Homo sapiens: one gene and its partner. The protein of the gene in region 1 interacts with the protein of each later gene in a biochemical or structural test. Each region holds a gene or a part of one and is shown on either strand. Other genes may lie near its edges. The genes, in order: PSMB7 and SERPINA10.

Region 1 (3,994 bases):
CTAGTTTGGCCGGGGACATTATTGCCGCCGTTCTGTTTCTCAGGAGGAGGAAGCCAAGAATCTGGTGAGCGAAGCCATCGCAGCTGGCATCTTCAACGACCTGGGCTCCGGAAGCAACATTGACCTCTGCGTCATCAGCAAGAACAAGCTGGATTTTCTCCGCCCATACACAGTGCCCAACAAGAAGGGGACCAGGTGAGTGAAGGAGACGAAGTTCTTCCTGGGTCCCCTGGCGTCGTGGCCACCCTTGGTATCTCCATGGCATCTGGATGGAGTTTTCCTGGTTCTTTCCACATTAAGTACATCCAGTGTTCCCAAATCAACCTCCCACACAGACCTTCGGCTTGTTACTTGCTTTATGACAGTGGGCTGCTGTCAGGTGTAGGAAAGTGATTTAATTTGATGGGAGAGGTGGAGGGTGGCCCAGGAAAGAGCCCTAGGCTGGGAGGTGGGGCCGGAGAGGTTTGGATCATCTGCTGTCCTTTCTCAAGTGTCTTAAAGAATCCCCTGATTTCTGGGAGAAGGTGCATTTTTCAGGGCAGCCCCAGCACTTTCCCTCAGAGTGCCCCGAGATTCCTAACTGGGTGTAAGTCAGCAATGCTAACAGCCTCCCAGAGGTGGCCTTGGGAGCTAGTGTGTGTGTGCTGTGCTACAGGGAGTTGTGCCATTGAGCCTGAGCCTACATGCCGAGTGGGCCCCTCGGCTCAGTGGTGCAGCGCAGACTCAGAGCAGTGGGAGAAGGTTCTAGTTGATTTGCTGAGCAGAACTGGGAGGTTTCCAAACCTGGTGGCTAGCATGTGTCAGAGGAGCAGCTCGTTTGCAGTGTCTCGTGATTGTCCGGCTGCTTGACCATCCTGTGGCTCCTGACCTCTTCTGGGAGCCCGGGCAGGTCAGGATGGGCTCCCTGAGTGCTGCTTCCAGCTGCAGCATCTGGGTGCAGCACAGGGCATTTATAAACTACGGCTCCCACTCAGCTCCACGGTAGCCCCGAGGAAGTGAGCACCACCTTCTGCAGGCTTGCTTCCATCTCCCACTGCACACACAACTCCACATCAGGAGTAATTCACAAGGAAGGAATGGAACGTTCAGAACCAGCAGGTATTCACTGTGGGCTGCACTCAACCTTGCGGAAGCTCAGTGGGCTCCTGATGGGGTGGGGCAGCACGGGGCCAGAGAACGCTGGCACTGGGGTTGGGGAGTGTTGGTGGCTGGCTTGGTGGCTTCCAGCAAATCAGTCTGTCTTGGAAATGGAGCTAAACCAGATGACCTCTAATGAGCCCACGAAGTCCCTCGGGCCTTTAGCAGGAAGGCAAGCCACCTTTCAGGCCCAGAGCTGTGTTGGGGAACCGGGCTTTGCCGAGCTCCAGGTAGGCAGGAGCCAAGTACTCCATGTAGCCTGCTTCGCTGGTTATTTTGCAAGATGCGTGATTTGAGCAAGTCCATGGTGAAGCGGTGATGGGGTAGGGAATGGTTACACCATTCAGGCTGGCCAGGGTCCTGGGCGAGGACTCTGAAAGCCACGTCTGGGCCAGTGAGAAGTGGTTGCCTAGGGAACCTGTGCTGAGCGCAGGAGTCCTCATCCACAGGGAGTGCAGCAGTGGCACATCCTACTTCCTGGGACATGGGCTGCTCCACTTGTAAACAGAGGCTCTAAACACCCAAGAACAAAAGAAAACCGCCTTGCGGCTGCTTGGGAAGAATCAGCAAGGCGACCCAGAAGCTGCTGGGCGTGTGGTGGGTGTGCAGTAACCTGCAGGGAGCCTGCTCCCCATCGGTGTCCTGGGGCCAAGGGCAGCAAGTGTCCAAGCTCCCTGGACTCTGTTGTCTTCTTTGCCAGTGACTGAAGATGGGGGCACTGCCTGAGTTAGGGGAGCCCTTCCCAGGGTGGATGCTAGGGTGCGGGCAGGGCGATAGGCCTGAGGAAGCATCCCGTGCCATGCGCCAGTGGGCCTTGCCTGGCAAGTCCCTGCTGCCTGTCTGCCCGCAGCCCTCCAGCACACGGTCTTGCAGTCCACTGGCACGTAAGGCGGAAGCTCTGAATGCATGCCGCAAAAATCGGGCACTGTCACCACAGTGGTGAGGAGGCTCTTGTGTGTCCAAGCCTCCCGGAGACACTGAGGGGTGGTTCAGAGGAGTCAGGCACACAGAGGCCACGTGGGACTTTGGCTCTAAGACTGCACGCTGCCACCAAGGTTCCAGCGTGTGAGGGATGAGGGGCATCCTCAAACTGATGGGGTGGGGACACATTGTTCAAAGGTACTTTTGCTTGGATTCTTTAAGAGGGTGGGGGTCGGGGGAGGCTTGGCAGCATAAAGGCAGGCCGCTCTGGGCTGACCGTGCTCCTGACCTGGATGCAGAACTGTGGAAGTTGCCCTCCTTGTTCTGCTTCCTGCTCCCTCTTTTAGCCCGTGTGTCCAGGGGAGAGGATGGGTGTTCCGGGAGCACAAGGCCATGGCACAGCCAGCAGCCTTCTGGCAGTTCCTGAAGGACAGCAAGTTTGACAGAGATATTACCCCAGCTGGGGCTAGAGCAGAGGAACAGTTGGTTGTGTGCTGCCATTTGACAGTATCCTAATTCCTGACCCACTGTGAGCATTAACAGCCCAAATACATATCTTCTAGACAGTCTGGTGCTCAAAGAAACCTCTGCCAGATTCACTCCAGGAAGAAGGTGTTGGGTGTGTCCTAGTGGGGACCCACTGTGTCCCTGAAAGGGACAGTTAACTTTTCTTGAGACTTGAGAGTGGTCTGAAATGACAAGCCCAGAGTCTGGCTGCACATTTTTTTTACACTGTTTATGCTTCCAGATGTTTGTGCAGTGTCTAAGGTAACAGTTAAGTCATTCTTGTTGCTGCACGGAAGAGCAATCATGCCCTTCTCTTGTGTAATGATGGGATTTGCTTCCTGCTGTCCCTGAACAGTATTGTAGGGAGGTTGAAGATTGATGTCAAGGGACCAAGTGCTTCCCAGCACTTGTGGGGATGGTGGGGTGGGGGGAGAGTCACGTGTCCACCAAGGGCCAGGTGCCGTGTTCACTAATGACACTCTTTGCCTCCCAGGCACCCCCATTTTGCAGCACTTGAGAACTGAGGAAGTTGAATCCCCCAAGATCACAGAGCTGGGATCGGGAGAGCCAAGATTCCAGTCCAGCCTGCTCACTGCGTTGCCTGAATATTTATTTTCACTGTCTTCTGCCCTCTGGCACCTTGAGGAGAATCCTAACTCTGTGCTTTTGTTTTTCTCTTACTAGGCTTGGCCGGTACAGGTGTGAGAAAGGGACTACTGCAGTCCTCACTGAGAAAATCACTCCTCTGGAGATTGAGGTGCTGGAAGAAACAGTCCAAACAATGGACACTTCCTGAATGGCATCAGTGGGTGGCTGGCCGCGGTTCTGGAAGGTGGTGAGCATTGAGGCCCAGTAAGACACTCATGTGGCTAGTGTTTGCCGAATGAAACTCAACTCAATAAAAAACAAAAACCAAATTGGGCAGCTGAGGTCTGGGCACTGTGTGGTGTTTTTGGGGGCAGTAGGGGGCTGCTAAGGCCATTGGCCTGGCCCTTCAGGGTGCTGATCCTCCTTGAGCACTGGCCTAGGCTCAGAGGAGAGCGTAGGAGCCATGCGCCCCTCCTGAGGACAGATAGGTTCTGTCTGCTGTCAGAAGTCAGAGTGGACTCCCTTGAGGCTTCAGGTGACCATCGATACCTACCCTTTTTGCTGGCTGAATTTGTTTGGGGTGGCCTCAGGTTTGGTTTGGTTTTGAAATGGGGTGATAAGTGCAGCACACCCTCCACCTCAGCAGCCAAGTAGGAAAAAAATGGCAAAGCCAAAGCTGTGTTCTCAAGCCCAGCTCAGTTCTGAGAACCAAGAGAAGGTGAGCAGGTGCACCGCCAGAGCTGTGTGAAGGTGGGTGGACCTCACTTTGGCCGGTTTCACAGAAATAAAAGGAATGTTTTGGGGTTACGGTTTTGTAATAAGTAGGACATGATCATTTCAC
Region 2 (6,900 bases), on another chromosome or scaffold:
CCATAACACAATAGAAAGATGTCTTTAAAGTTCAAGGCAGGAGGGATGTCTGGAAATCAGCGAGAAATTTGCACCTGTGTGTGCATGTGCATATGTGTGTGTGTATGTTGCAAGGACTTGGAAAGCCCTTTTTTTCCTACCTCTGTACTACTGTGGGGGGAGGCTAAACTTGACTTCTTCCCATCTTAGTTCTTTTTTGGGATAGACTCCTGTAACAAAAGACAGACAAGAGAAAAATCAGCTTACAACATGGGCCATGCACTTCACACAGGAGAAACCTGCATGAAAAGTAACTCAAAATGGTGCCTTAGAACTCCACTTACCTTTAGTAAAGAGCAATAAATTAGCAGGAAAATCATGGATCGGGACAAGGGAAGTGGTTTTATGCTTCCAAGGGCAGGAAATCATGGAAGGTAAATATATGGGAGGAAACTAAAGGAATAAGGCTTGTTTGCATATTCCTCTGATGCCATCTCTGGGTTGATAAGAGTCTAGAGTCATTTCCAGTAAAGATGAATTTTTATCTGTCTTTAGGAAGAAAGGGGGAAAGATAGAGAAAACTATTTCTCCATTTGCTGTTTCTTAATTACCTTCAGTTCAAAAATAATTTTTATATCAGAAAGGCATATTTAGAGGTATGTTAGTTTATTTTCACACTGCTAATAAAGACATACCCAAGACTGGGTAATTTATAAAGAAAAAGAGGTTTAATGGACTCACCGTTCCACATGGTTGGAGAGGCCTCACAATCAAGGCAGGTCTTACATGGCAGCAGGCAAGAGGGAGAATGAGAGCCAAGCGAAAGGAATTTCCCCTTAAAAATCCCCTTATAAAACCATCAGATCTCGTGAGACTTACTCACTACCACAAGAACAGTATGGGGGAAACCACCTCTATGATTCAATGATCTCCCACTGGGTACCCCCCAACAACACGTGGGAATTATGGGAGCTACAATTCAAGATAAGATTTGGGTGGGGACACAGACAGACCATATCAAGGGGTAACATAGTCTGGTTTCCTTTACTACCCACCTACCCAAACACCCCCTTCATCTGATCCACACAAAGTAAACTCTTGCAGTTCTCTCACTGTTTCCTGGAGTCTGCTTTTGGTCTCATAGGACTGCCCTAACGCTTGTTTTTCAGACGTTTAACCCTGTAGGTCTCTGGACAAATTTGCTTTAGAAGCCCCTCGATGTCGCCCTGAAGAGTGGCTTTCAGAAGTTGTGCCTCCTGCCTGAGGGGAGTTCCAGGAAGGGTTCTGCATCGCCTATGAGTTTATCTGGATCACCAGAGGCCTTCCCGTCAGAGCTTTCCCAATCGTTTTTGGCCAAGGAGTGTGAGAAGCTAAAGTTCATAACAACTGGAAGTCAGACAGCCTGGTCTATTCTGCTTTAACTCTAGCAGGAAAGGCCTTCATGGTGGGGCCTGAATATCTTCCTTTATAAAATCAAAGCCTGGGGACAGGGTTACTTACTTCTGAGGTTCAATCTGGCTCTAAAATTATGCAACAAATGCCATTCCTTTAGCACTTCCTTCCTACCGGGCGAGATACTCAACTCCACAGGCACCACCTCAGTTCATCCTCTCAGAAGTCCTAACAGCTCAGCCTGGGGCACCCCATTTTACAGATTAGTAAACTGAGGCTAAGAGAGGTTAGGTAGCTTGTTCAGGGTCATGCTGCTGGTAAAAGAGCTCAGGCTACAGTGCTATGCATTGAGTTTTCTCACTTTCCCATCTAACTGGAGGGCTAAAGGTCAAAGAGTGGGCAGCTCCCTTGTTGGGAGCTGTACAGGAATAATGTCCTCCCTGAAGGAGGGGGACTTCTGAGCCACACCCTGGGGTCCAGGGCTCACAGCCTTAGGAGCAAAATCGTCCACCCCCTTCCTGGTTCCTCGGTGCTGCAGAGATATTCATAGGACAGAGTCTGAGTTCTGGCCACTTAACAGAGGAAGAAAGGCTGGCTCGGTGAGGTTAACTTACATCCCAGCAGCTAGGAACCGGGAGCAGAGGACCTCAGATTCACACCAGGGCAGGAGGCAATGGCCTGGCTGAAGCCTTCACAATCTTCCCAATATACTCCGCTGCCTTCCTTTATAAGGATCCATTTCTGAAACCCTGTGCCCTGGCCAGGCACGGTGGCTCACACCTGTAATTCCAGTACTTTGGGAGGCCAAGGCAGGAGGACCACGAGGTCAGGAGTTTGAGACCAGCCTGGCCAATATGGTGAAACCCCGTCTCTACTAAAAATAGAAAAATTAGCGTGGTGGCAGGCGCCTGTAATCCCAGCTACTCGGGAGGCTGAGGCAGGAGAACTGTTTGAACCTGGGAGGTGGAGGTCTCAGTGAGCTGAGACAGACAGTGCCTGGGTGACAGACAGAGACTCCGTCTCAAAAAAAAAAAAAAAAAGAAAGAAACCCTGTGCCCTAAGACCTGCACACTCGCTGGCTCCGCTCAGACATTTAGCAAAGCAGACACCTTCCCAGGCCTGGAGGAAACAGCCCCTGCTTTTTGGGAATCCACAAGCCCGCAGCTGCAGAGCTCGACCTGGATGGGCAGGCAAAGGCTGACTCCTGTGCGTGGTGTGAGTCCAGCCTGGCCCCTCTACACCCTCACTTTCACCTCTTAAAGAACTGCCTATTAACAGAGCAGGTACTGCCCAAAAGGAACACTCTGGAAACTTGTTGGGACACTTCTGCCTTTCACAAACGTTTGGGGGGAGTACTACTAGCATTTAAGGATTGAGGGTTAGCAATGCCAGACATACCAGAACACGCAGGGCAGTCTCCCATGATGAAGAGGCCGCCGGGTTCCCCAGGACTCACATGTCCACCTCAAGTTCACGTGGGATTATCTGAGCCTAGACTGTCAGTCCTGGGGCTGCTTTATTTCATATAAAAATATAATATTTATCCAAGGTTTTACTACACACTGCATTTTCTGTGAAGACAATGACCGTGTAAATCAGGGAAAGATCTATATTTTATTTTGTTTGAAACTTTACCAAGCATTATTTACCATTTCAAAAGCTCTATCCCTGGTAGTACCATTGGTTTTCTTGTTCACCGGCCAGCAGTGAGCAGCACACAAGCGACCTCCCGTGGGCTCCACATTGGACAGCCTCACTGCACCTGCCCAGGCCCTTAGGCCACAGCACTGCCATATTCAGGGACACATTATTCTCTTTTATTATGCCTCCATATTATCATTACAGCATTATCTTTTTTTTAATTTTGTGGGTAGATTATATTAGCTATACGTTTCACTTCAATGGTAGTAGTAAGGGGCACATAACAAAATATTTACTTATATATATTAAAAAAGAGAGTCTGAGAAGTCTGAAAAGTTTTGCCATAAACGGTCTCCACCAGCCTCAACTCTGAGTGCCCGAGGATTCAGTCTCAAGTCCAGCAACATTGTGAAGCAGGAAATTTACCTTGAAAGGAGCTATGTACTCTAAGTAGTGATTTACCTGTCTGCCTCCCCCACTGGATTGACCAGTTCCTTGGGGGCTGAGAGAACAGGTCCTGAACATTTCTGCTGTGCCCCCCAACCCACATCCTCATAGTGTCCAGTACCAGGCTGGGGACTCAGGAAGCATCCATGGGATCCCCCAGTGCCTTCTTTCTCGAGGTGTTCAGCACCTAGAACAGCTCAAGACAAATTCCCCACACCCCACCCAGACAGAGCTGAATCTTACTGGGGCGAAGCCTTGAGTTGCAAGGCAGAAGCTCTCGTGATGGGATTTGGGTCATATTCCGGGTTATAGGAGGAGCTGGGGAGTATGGGAAGCCTCCCACTTGGTCTTTGGTTTTCCAGAAACTCCACCATCACAAGCAGGATGTTAATCAGTAACCGTCCCACAGGGGATCATACTTTGGAATAGCAAATATTTGCTGAAGGTTCTGGGCTGCAAAGCTGAAGCTTTGGTTTCTGCTCTAAATGAAGGACTTTTCCAGGACCCAAGGCCACACACTGGTAAGAGGCAGTGGGTTACAGGAGACCTTCAATGAGTCTAATCAGGGAGGGACCGGGAAGGATGGTATCATCCCTGGGCGGGCTCCAACGTGAGGGCTGTGTGGCTGAGCAGTGCAAAGACCTCCATCCTACACTCCACAGGGACTGTACATACAGATTGGGAGCTGGAGTGGGGTAAGAGGCGAATTATAGACACAAGGGGCTCCTCTGCAGGAAGGAGGCCAAGGGAAAGAGGCTTGAAAGGCTTGATATTTCACCCACCACCACTCACTGCCGGAGTAAGCAGGTCTCCCCTTCCCAGGGCTGAGGGGAGGCAGGGATGTGTGCTGTCCCAGGGCTGAGAAGTGGCAGGTGAGCTGGTGATTCCTTACTGCCCAGGTTCTGTCTAGGAAGGTGCGTCCTCACCATGCTGGATGGTGTCCTAGTCCAGGAGCACCCCCTGAGCTCCTGGCCTAGACTCCAAAGGGTTGGGTAGATGAGCAAAGACTTTACAAAGACCTTAGGCGATATATGTCCAGGAGCACCCAGGAATTACTGGGCTACCACTGCAGACTGCAGGACAAGCTCCAAGAACAGGAAGGTAAGACTCAGCATTTGGAGGTGGTGACATCTAGTTGGCGTGCTGGGCTAATTTCCTGACCATTGTACAGGGAGAAGTAACCTTGAATTCAGGAGTATTCTGTGTGGTCTTAATGTAGAAAGTAGCACTAAATGATGCCACGTAATCGTTTTAGCTCAGGCTCCTCTAACAAAACACCACAGGCTGGGTGGCTCCAACAGCCATTGATTTTTCACAGTTTTGGAGGCTGAAAGTCCGAGTCAGGGTGCCAGCGTGGCCGGATTCTGGTAGGGCTGTCTTCTTGGCTTGCAGATGGCCACCTTCGCACCGTGTCCTCCCATGGAGAGGAGGTGCGGAGGGGGACTCTGCTCTCTTCTTATGACAGCACTAGTGCTATCACAGGGGCCTTGCCCTCACGACCTCATCTAAACCTAATCACCTCCCAAGCGCCCCAACTCTATTGCCATCACAATGGTGGTTCGGGCTTCAACTTATTAATTCTCAGGGGACACATTCAGTCCATAACAATAAAAGCGTGAAACTGGGCTGCGTTTACACTGAAAGAGCTATTTACCCAACGTTTACAATACTTGGGTGACCTGTTGAATGCAGGCTTGCCATTTAGAGTCAAAAAGAGCTTCCTCAACAGTGTCCTTTGGGAAACACAGTGGAAGTATTTCACTGCTTCTACAGGGGAGAGGGTAGTGCCGTTCAGACTGCAGAGTGAGGCCCTGAATTCCGGGGTGCCATTCAGCCCGAGCAAGGGGCAACATGCTGGGCCCTGGCGCTGGAGGCGGTTTTGTCCCAGGCATAGATAAGGACTCAGCCCCTGCATCAGGAAGAGGCCTGGCAGCACCGCCTGTCAATACATTTTGCCGCAGGTGACCTTGGTCAAGAATAAGGGTCTCTGCTGATGGGAACTACTGTGAGGCCGGCAGCATCCACCCTGCGCTCACTGGGCTGGGTGGCCTACCCCACCCAGACCCTCCCAGGGCAGTGGGCCCAGAGAGAGGATGAGGGAGGGCAGGTGTCCCAGGGGTTCTGCCCAGCCAGCCTCTGGGATCAGGCCTGCAGTGTGGCTGAACACCAGAACTGAGTTTGGACACAGCCAGGTGGCCCAGGCCAGTCCCAAGCCATGTATTTGGATGGAAAACATGGAAGTATTCAGGAGCCAGGCTCTGTGTCCAAGGATGTGGAGGGAGCCTAAAAGGCGACAGAGAAGGGGACAGCTAACGGTGAAGAAGTGTAGCTCCCACACTGCAGCCTAGGACAGTGAGAACCGGCATGCAGCCCAGGTGGCTGAGGGCTCTATGAAGCCACAGTGGAGGGAGCCCAGAAGTGGGTTGTATGAATTGCGGGGCCTCCTGCTACCCGGGAGCTGCAGCTATAGGAAGGAAGGAAGGAAGGAAGACCTCCAAGGAACTGTGTAGCAGAGGTGCAGTGCAAAGAGAATTTTGATAAAAAATCCAGGAAAGCTCCAATACTTTCCCCCTTCCTTGCCTAACGGGCATGCAGGCACTCCAATCCCCAGCCAAACAGGGCACTGGGCAAGGCCGGCCACCCATCTGGATGGGCAGCCTGACGACCAGATGGTCAGGGCAGTGAATGAAGCAGATCAAGGAAAGGTGTGTGAGGACCCCTGATTCCACCTGCTTGGACCCCCACCTTCTGTGCTGCCTCCTGCTCCCAGAGTGGACTCTCTTGCCCTGGCCCTCAGGGAGGAGACGGGATGAATGAAAACGGGGTCAGGACTGAGAGCTGCCTGCCGGCCTGGCAGGGAATGGGAACTGGAGGAGGTTTTGCTCTGTGAAATAATGTCCCCTCTTTGGGTGAGCAAATGTCACCCACACTTGCTCTAGGTCTCCCTGGGGCAGGGCTAACCTACTTGAGCCACAGGAAGGAGGCAGGGTCCCTGAAGAAGCTTTTACTATCCACAAAGACATTTTAGGAGGCATTAAAACCATCTCTATCCTCTCCTCTCCACAGGAAGTCTTGCAGCTGAAGGGAGGCACTCCTTGGCCTCCGCAGCCGATCACATGAAGGTGGTGCCAAGTCTCCTGCTCTCCGTCCTCCTGGCACAGGTGTGGCTGGTACCCGGCTTGGCCCCCAGTCCTCAGTCGCCAGAGACCCCAGCCCCTCAGAACCAGACCAGCAGGGTAGTGCAGGCTCCCAAGGAGGAAGAGGAAGATGAGCAGGAGGCCAGCGAGGAGAAGGCCAGTGAGGAAGAGAAAGCCTGGCTGATGGCCAGCAGGCAGCAGCTTGCCAAGGAGACTTCAAACTTCGGATTCAGCCTGCTGCGAAAGATCTCCATGAGGCACGATGGCAACATGGTCTTCTCTCCATTTGGCATGTCCTTGGCCA

Evidence for each region.
Region 2: of the proteins of PSMB7 (region 1) and SERPINA10, one has a biochemical effect on the other in vitro, tested with the Homo sapiens proteins (one study listed by BioGRID).

Annotation. Positions count from the first base shown.
Region 1 is NC_000009.12:124,352,965-124,356,958, reverse strand, and holds the end of PSMB7 (proteasome subunit beta type-7 precursor), read left to right. Parts: exon of another isoform or gene 1-43; coding exon 44-195; exon of another isoform or gene 196-3,249; coding exon 3,250-3,361; 3' UTR 3,362-3,494; downstream 3,495-3,994. UniProt on the Homo sapiens protein: Component of the 20S core proteasome complex involved in the proteolytic degradation of most intracellular proteins. This complex plays numerous essential roles within the cell by associating with different regulatory particles.
Region 2 is NC_000014.9:94,290,269-94,297,168, reverse strand, and holds the start of SERPINA10 (protein Z-dependent protease inhibitor precursor), read left to right. Parts: upstream 1-3,900; 5' UTR 3,901-3,980; exon of another isoform or gene 3,981-4,490; coding exon of another isoform or gene 4,491-4,560; intron 4,561-6,525; coding exon of another isoform or gene 6,526-6,575; coding exon 6,576-6,900. UniProt on the Homo sapiens protein: Inhibits activity of the coagulation protease factor Xa in the presence of PROZ, calcium and phospholipids. Also inhibits factor XIa in the absence of cofactors.